2 separate regions of the Homo sapiens genome follow, and region 2 is linked to region 1. A link means that fine-mapping ties the variant in region 1 to the expression of a gene that starts in the linked region. Tissue or cell type: whole blood. Region 1 holds a variant in brackets; the other region holds the start of a gene. All regions are shown on one strand. Distances are between the middles of the regions.

Region 1 (4,241 bases):
AGAAATCCTGGCAAAATACAGATTGCTTCCTTCTATCAGAGAAGTGCCTCGGTGACCCTGGCATGGCCCAGTTTGGGAACTGCACATGAACTTCCTTTTGATCTACTGTGTAGAATCACTTCTATGCTTTGTGGAAAATTTTTTTATATACAATCCAAGACAGTATTTGAAAAAGAACAGAATGAAATGCTACAGATCATAAACAATGATAACAGAATCTGAGAGTAGTAATTCTGATTTTCCTGAAAGTGTTTAGTTGGATAGCACTTTGTCTTAATGAATGAAAAATATAATCTCCTATGATAAAGACTAAATAACGAGTAGCCTTACTTTATAAAGTTACAAACTTTGTCAGAACAAGTTGTTTTCTCATGGAAGCAGGAAGCAAAGATACTACCCTTCCATCTCTGCATCTTCCAGAGTGCCAACACAGTGCTCTCAACATGACAAGGCCAAGACATACTTTAATGAATAATATATAATGCAGACTACCAGGGAGAGAACAATGGTGTATATAGTAAGGGATGCTTTCTGCTTTACAGCTATAAGTCATATCAATGACACACTGCAAGGGTTTTTATAATTTTGATAATGTATAAGCATATTAAATAATACATGAATTTGATTTTGAGCTAAATCAAATATCCCGAAGAAATATACACTGAATGACAAAACTGCAAACCGTAACAGCAAATCTGCATTTCCACGTGCTGACAGGCACACATCAATTTCTGATACAGCACTTGCTACTCACAGCCAACCCCAACAAGTGGACAGCGCACCTCTCATGGGCAGGCAGGAAGTGCCTGACCCAGCAAGGGTGTGGAAAGGAGGCTGTTTCTGTCCTCTATCCTCAACTCTGGGAAACCTCATCAGCAACAGAAAGATGTTTCATTATTATTTTTGGCAAATTACCATGAAACTCTATGTAATGTACCACAAAGGAACTGCTCTAAGTTTACTTTATGTGGAGGCAGCACATGCAAGTGCAGTCCTTGACCACGAGCTAAATAATAAAGAACTCAGACATTCTAGGATTTTGGTTAAGCCGCCTTTCGGGGAGGAACACTGACCTTGGGATGTTGTGAATACTGAAGATCCATTGCGAGAGACCGTGATTCCAGTAACTGCTCTGCTCAAAAACAAAGTTTCACAAATTACTACTCATCATGTGTTAGGATACCCTCTTTGTTTCATATCCTTGATTTAATTTTACCAAGTTTCCTTAATTTTTTTCTTCACAGCATGTCTGCCGGATCTGTCCCAGCATAAACCTGCCATTACCAAATCACTGCTTGGCACCTTCTAACGTTCTGGCAACGCCTGTGGCTAGAAAACATCCCCACTCTTTGCTTCCCTGTGTTCCACATGCAATGCTTTACATATTCCTGACAATTTCTGGCAATTGGAAAACTCTTCTCCTTCTATTCCCCCTCGTTTGACCATCACCAAAAGGACAAACTCTTCTTCACAGTCACTTCACTTGCTGATTACTGAAGCTAATTTACTCAGTGACTATTCAATGATGAGAAAATTGGTTCCAGCCTGTCCTCTTAAAGGATCATTCAGTCTTCACTACCTTGGATTACAAGGTCCCTTCCTATGTGCCATTTAGAGAAGTTGAGAAAAGACAGCCATTGTCATCATGAATCAGCCAAAACTCCTTGTTTCTCTTCGGGAGGCTGGACTGTGATGTGAAGCCATCCATCTAATGCACAGCAGTATGCCCAGCTCCACCCATGACCTGTATGCCGGAGGGGCTGTCTGTCGTCATGGAGCTAGGTGGGGCCTAGTCTCTGGACCTGGGTTTCCTCTCTGTAGCAGGATGAACAGGCTAGGTCAGTGCTTCTCGAGCCTTTCTACCAGAGAACATGAAGGTCTTAATGAGAGAGGGCAGAGAACACACATATCATCTCTGGGTCCAACAGCAAGCCCAATTTCTTAGAAGCATAATTATTTTTAAAATTCATGTGAACTTTGCAATGTTCTCTGGGAGAGCTAATTTTTTTAAAAGGTGCCTTTTCACCTACATTATGTGTAAATCCAACACTCGTGGGGTATACATCACACTTCTCCCATCAAAGATTCAAGGAGCTGTGTACTCCAATTTGAGAGGCACAAAACTGGCTGCTCTCTGCCGACCACATCTTGTACTGTGAAGTGACAGACTGCAGAAATGACAGCACGGTAGCCACCACAAATCATTTCGTGCCAAACTTTCCCTACTACATCAACCTCAGGTGGAGATCACTATAGACATTTTGGGGAGATTTTTAAAAATAAAGACAACATTGAAAGGGAATTTTCCCTCTGACTCAGCTTAAAACAGTTTAATCCCATGCCAAGACCCTAACTTTTACCAGGACTATCAGCTGCTGAGAAGAAGCAGAGATATTCTTACTCTTTGTGGATTTTATAGTGCTCGTGTAACTGCAGTTTGGTGATGTTATTCCAGGCCAGTGTTTTGCTTTCTTCGGTCAGGTCTTCAAAAGACTCTTCACCTGGAGAGACGACATTAAATTTTTG[CT/C]AAGTCAACTAAGTTACCAACAGACAACAGCATCAGATTAACAATATTTTCTATTAAAATCAAACAACTAAGAAATGAAACACCCTGTCACAATATAACTGCTTTGAAATGTACCTGTTAGATGGTTCCACGTTAGTCAAGGAAAAAATTGTATAGAGAAAGATAAAAAGTATCTTTGAATAATACTAGAATCTTTTTATACTTTAACAATGTTTGCAAAGTTTTCACTCGGCCTCTAACTTATGAATTTGGGGAAATACAAGACTGAGTCATCATTTCCTTGTCAACATTGTTTCAAAAACCTGACAGTTGCCTAAGAATGCAACAATTTTGTTCTGGTGTGGGGTGGGGAAAGCAGAGATGAAATCAATTACCGCAAGGGCTTCTGGCAGGAGTAATCCTTTTACTTCTGCTTTAAGAAGGGCTGAAACAATTACCATCTTAAAACAATCACATGACAGTGGTTACAGCCTGGTGACTAAGCAGAGTGCAGTTTGAAACAGCATCACAAGATAATCCTGTGATCTTCATGATTTAACCCTCTAGAGTATTCTCTCTTAAAGAAGCTACCCCTGGGTCATGTAACTCCAGGAAGCTATTTCTCCATGCTTGAGAGAATGCTCATCTATGTATGCCTAAAATGTCTGGATGTCCTTGGAACAGACAGGAGGATAGGAGATAAAAAGTGATTTTGCTCCCAAAGCTCCACAGAGTGTCAACCTCCTTCTGGAAGCCTGTAGGTTTGAAGTTGTCTTAGGTAAAATCTAAAACCTGGGTAACTGGAGAAAGGTGAGTGTTCTTTCCTACCTTTCCAAATATTAGATGTGAGAACTGGGTCAAGTTCAATTTAGTGCCTAGCACATGCCCAGCGCAGAACAGATACCCTGTAAATGTTTGTCAAATGTTAAATAAGTGAAATCCAATGAAGAAGAGAGAGCACTTTGAATTCAAGATGTATGTGGGGCCGAGCGCGGTGGCTCAGGCCTGTAATCCCAGCACTTTGGGAGGCCGAGGAGGGTGGATCACGAGGTCAGGAGATCGAGACCATCCTGGCTAACACAGTGAAACCCTGTCTCTACTAAAAATACAAAAATTAGCCGGGCGTGGTGGCGGGCGCCTGTAGTCCCAGCTACTCAGGAGGCTGAGGCAGGAGAACGGCGGCGTGAACCCGGGAGGCGGAGCTTGCAGTGAGCCGAGATGGCGCCACTGCACTCCAGCGTGGGGGACAAAGCAAGACTCCGTCTCAAAAAAAAAAAAAAAAAAGATCTGTATGTGGGTATAGAAGAGCATAATTAGGGCCAGAGAAAGTCCCTTCTGGAAGACAGCAGGGCTGACAGTGACTGGGAAGGCAGACTGGACAGCTAGGACTGTAAGAATGAAAAGGCAAATAGCTAAGGATCAAACACCAGCTTCAAAACCACAGAAGAGAAAGAGAACCACATCAAAACATATATGGCCAACTTTCACTCATATTCAATTGCCAGAAAATAAAAGCGATTTGATTTCCCTTACAGTCTATAGCTGAAAACAAACAACATCAGCAAAAACAGGTATCTGTTTTCAGGAGAACTGCAATAAGGCAGGAGAACACAATCATCTCTAAGTAGCACAACAGTATACGTCTTATCTCCTCTTCAGAAACATTTTCATCACAGAAGAGAAACAAAAGGTGCTCACGTTTATTCTCTTTACAAAATTTACCTGGGGAATCTGC
Region 2 (4,241 bases), 65 kb after region 1:
CTCAGCAAGTTATAATTCAAATAAATATAAAACACATGGCGCCAACTTTTTCAGATGACTGATGCTCAGGAACAGTTGATGCCTCCTGACTGGATAGATAAATGTTTTGGTTGCCAAGAGCTAGAGTTCTCTCTGAACACTGCCAGCCTATCACGTTGTTGTCTAATCAATGAATTCTAACAAAGCAGCATATACATGGAAATGCAAGTACAGGTTTCAAGGTTTGTGTGACACCACGGAGCTGTATGAGCTAGCCAAATTGAACACAAATTACTTCATCGAAATAACAGCCAGAACCAAGGAAAAAACGTTTCCCTGTATATCAAAAAGGCCAATATGAGTATTGGCACGAATGACTCATATCATACAACATGATGCCAATTCAAGTGTGTCAAAGTTCTCACAATTTAAATATGAATGTTCACCCACTCAATACAGAGCACCAACAAGTCTTAATATTGTTGGTACTAAACAAAGAATCTCCACTCAAGCTCTTTCCACAAGAAAAATGCATTACAAATTCAGTCAGAAGGGCATCCCCAAGTGTGAGTTACATAGTTAGGGCTCAGTTATTTAATAAACAACCCTTTCTGTGACTAAAACCTAATCACATCACCAAAAACATTTTTGAAAGCCATATCTGAGATACGTTTTCTGTGTATCGTATCTTCTTCTCTACAGTAGAAAAATGACATTTCGTACTGTGGACACACTGGTTAGACCAACATTACAGATTAGAGAAAGATGAATGTCTGGATCAAAGGGGTCGAGTCAACCCTTATAAAACAAGTGTAGACAAATCTTGAAGTCTGCACTTGTATTCCCACGTGTAACCTGCTTTGCTGGTATTCACTGATGAGACAACGTGACAGGCTAGCAGCACTGGAAGATCTGTGGCTCTCACAATCAAAACAGTGTGTCTGTAAAATGATTCAGCCCCCCTTTCCTTTTGGCATCTGAGCTGCAGACCGAGCAAGTTGTTTCTGTCACCAAAAATGCCCTGGGAACTATACATAGAGCCGAAGTGAGCTTTCTTATGAGACTTCCCTTGGGGACAGGTCCAGCATATCTGAAAGGGAACTGCTGTGAGACCATTTTAGCTCAAGGGATCCCAAATCCTTACTGGGATGCTGGTGAGAATGAGTGCTCCGCTGCCGCACCGCGATTTCGACTGCAAAGCTTTCCAACACAAGGTCCACTGCGCGGGGAGCAAGTGTTTGGGAGGCAGGACCTTGGCTTTCCTCAGAATCAGGCCTTTCCGGCGGCCCCCCTCCCAGCCTTCCAGGGCATGGAGCTAGTCCTGTGTCTAAAGGAGTCGGCAGGAAAAAGGCGCGGCAATGCGAGTGGGTGGTCGCCGGCCTGCTCGGTGCCGCCCGGCGACCAACTCTGCGGCGCCGGCGCCGAGTGCCTGGACCCGATTAAGGGGAAGGATTAGAAAGGGGGTGCCCGCCGGGCAGCGTACTCACCCTCCCCTGCGAACGCCCGGGCTCGCGTGCCGGGATCCACGCCCGGACCCCGCGCGGCCTTCCGGGTGAGCTGCCCGCGGCCGCCGGGACCTGCACTGCCGGATAGCTCGGCATGCCTCGGCTCCGCGGTGGAATCTGGCCTGGCCCGTCATCCAGTTCCTGTCCCCGGCAGGCTCCGGCCCAGACCAGGCCCCCGGCCTCTCACCCCGACCTCAGGTTTCCGCCACAGCCCCCAGCCCAGGCCCTGGACACGCGTCCGGCCCCTGCCTCCGTGCCCGGCCCCCACGCCGCCTCCCGTCCCTCAGATCTCCGGCCGGCGTCCCCACGACCGGCCCCGACTAGGCCCCCGGCTGGGCCCTTCTTCAGCTGGGCGCGCACCTCTCCTTGGAGTAGAGCTGCAGCTGCTGCTCCTGCTGCTTCTTCCGGATAAACGCCATGGAGGGTAGGCGCGGGCGGGCGCAGAGCGCACAGGCAGGCCCCGCCGCCGCCTGCCGAGGAGGTCCGGAGGAGCCGGGGAGGGCGGGATTGGTGGCCGGCTGGGGAGCGCGCGGCTGCCGGCCTGGCTTCCCCTGCGGCGCCGCTGGGCGGCCGAGAGCCCGACGCGGCGTCCCGGCCGCGCTCACCGCAGCATCCTCGCGTGGGGACTCCGGCGGCACCGTGACTCAGGCCCGGAGGAGGGGCGCGCGGTGACACGAGGCGCCCCAAACTCAGGCCGCCTCAGAGGATCGCCAGGGCCAGCGGCCAGACCAGGATCCGACCTCACACACTAAACGTTTCACCACTTTACCAACCATTGCAGGCTGCGTTTTAAATATTTTACGCATAAAAAGGGATGCTGGCCCATAAACCACCAATCTGTTGGCCACAAAGACTTGAAATAACAACGTTTTGTGTCCTCCATTGTGAAAAAAAAAAAAAGACGGAAGTTAAAGGGGTGAAGGCAACTCAGTCGTAACTATTCCAAATACACCAGGAATAAGTGGAGATTTATAGCCAAGGAGCAAGGAGCAGGTGTTCGGAAAACTGCTAAGAGGAAACATCAATTCTGGGGGAAATTCTGGCTGAACCAACCTAACAGGAGTCCCAGTGAAGGCAGGCCAGGGGGTCAGATACTAAGGGTAGGAGTAAAGAATTTTGATCACATATGGAGGGTGGGGGATTCTTGCTAAACTGCCGTGGCAGTGTTACTTCCTAACACTGCATTTACAAGGAAGTGCACACAAGGACCTGGGAGAAGATTCAGAAGCCTAACTGAAGTTTGGCCAAGCAAAGAATCTTTAACACAGTCTCTTGATTGTTGAGATAATTGCTCGCATGATTTTTTTTTATATAACAGCTTTATTGGGATATAACTCACATACCAAACAAGTCAACCATTTAAAGTATACCATTCAGCGATTTTTAGTATATTTCCAGATATGTTCAACAATCACCACAATTTGAGAACATTTTCATCACATGTAAAAGAAACCCATACCCTCTAGCTGTCACTCTTCCTAACTCTACCCTCCAAACCCCAGCCCTAGCAAACAATAATCAATTTCCTGTCTCTATGGGTTTGCCTATTCTGGATATTTCATATAAATGGAGCCATACAATATGTGGCCTTTTGTGTCTGGCTTCTTTCATTTAGCGTAATGCTTTCAAGGTTCATCTATGTTGTAGCATGTATCTGTACAGTACTTCGTTCCTTTAGATTGCTGGAGCATATTCTGTTGCATTTTGTTTATCCATTCATCAGTTGATGGACATTTCAGTTGTTTCCACATTTTGGCTATTGTGAATAAGGCTGCTGTACACAGTCATGTACAGTTTTTTTATGGACCTATGTTTCCATTTCTGTTGAGTGGAATTGGAATCTAAGAGTGGAATTGCTGGATGTGGAGGCGAAAGCAGCTCCATCTTGGAAGCTAATCCTCCGTGTTGACTTCTGATTGACCCCAGTTCTGGGAAGGCCTCTAAGATTTCTACTTTATCTATTGTTCCTTGTGTAAGAGCAGGTATCTACCCAGTATGTTCTGTCCTTAATTCAAACAACTTGATGTTATTATACTTCAATTGTCCTACACATCCCTTCTGAACCACCCCTCCCCTATGGTATATAAGCCCTAAGGGGCTGGAGTGATGGCTCATGCCGGTAATCCCAATGCTTTTGGAAGTTGAAGCTGGAGGATTCCTTGAAGCCAGGAGTTCGAGACCAGCCTGGGCAACAAAGCAAGACCCTGTCTCTACAAAAAATAAAAAATAAAAATTACCTGGGTACAGTGGCACACACCTATAGTCCCAGCTACTGGAGAGGCTGAGGCAGGAGGATTGCTTGAAGCCAGGAGTTCGAGACCAGCCTGGGCAACAAAGCAAGACCCTGTCTCTACAAAAAATAAAAAATAAAAATTACCTGGGTGCAGTGGCACACACCTATAGTCCCAGCTACTGGAGAGGCTGAGGCAGGAGGATCACTTGAGTCCAGGAGTTTGAGGCTTCTGTGAGCCATGATCGTACCACTGCACCCCAACCTAGGCAATACAGAGAGAGAGAGACCTTATCTCAAAAGAAAAAAAAAAAAAAACATTGAGTCTGGGGGTTAATAGCACAGCAATCCACCATCTCATCTTGCTGCCCAAGACACAGATATGGACATGGCTTCTGTTCCTTAGTCGCTATTAAATGTTTCTTCCCAAGGAACTTTATTTGTCAGCCTCTTTCTTCCACCTCCCGGCATCCCAGGACTTTGAGATAGATTTGTATAGGCCTGCCCACCATGGAACTGGGTCATAT

Evidence for each region. PIP is the estimated chance that this variant, and not a neighbour inherited with it, causes the effect.
Region 2: NSMAF starts here. The variant in region 1 is fine-mapped to the expression of NSMAF in whole blood (TOPMed, PIP 0.98).

What each region holds. Positions count from the first base shown.
Region 1 is chr8:58,593,159-58,597,399 of GRCh38, forward strand. It overlaps NSMAF (neutral sphingomyelinase activation associated factor), which reads right to left. Exons shown (of 31, transcript NM_003580.4): 21 at 4,229-4,241; 22 at 2,402-2,501; 23 at 1,074-1,132. Among named protein-coding and RNA genes, the nearest start is that of SDCBP, 42 kb to the left of the region's middle. RefSeq lists enhancers at 1,469-2,668, 3,018-3,067. The variant CT/C (reference allele first, on the strand shown) is at 2,527.
Region 2 is chr8:58,657,729-58,661,969 of GRCh38, forward strand. It overlaps NSMAF (neutral sphingomyelinase activation associated factor), which reads right to left and starts at 2,125. Exons shown (of 31, transcript NM_003580.4): 1 at 1,845-2,125. The coding sequence starts at 1,903. RefSeq lists enhancers at 565-1,128, 663-952, 1,129-1,691 and silencers at 1,403-1,852, 1,863-2,202.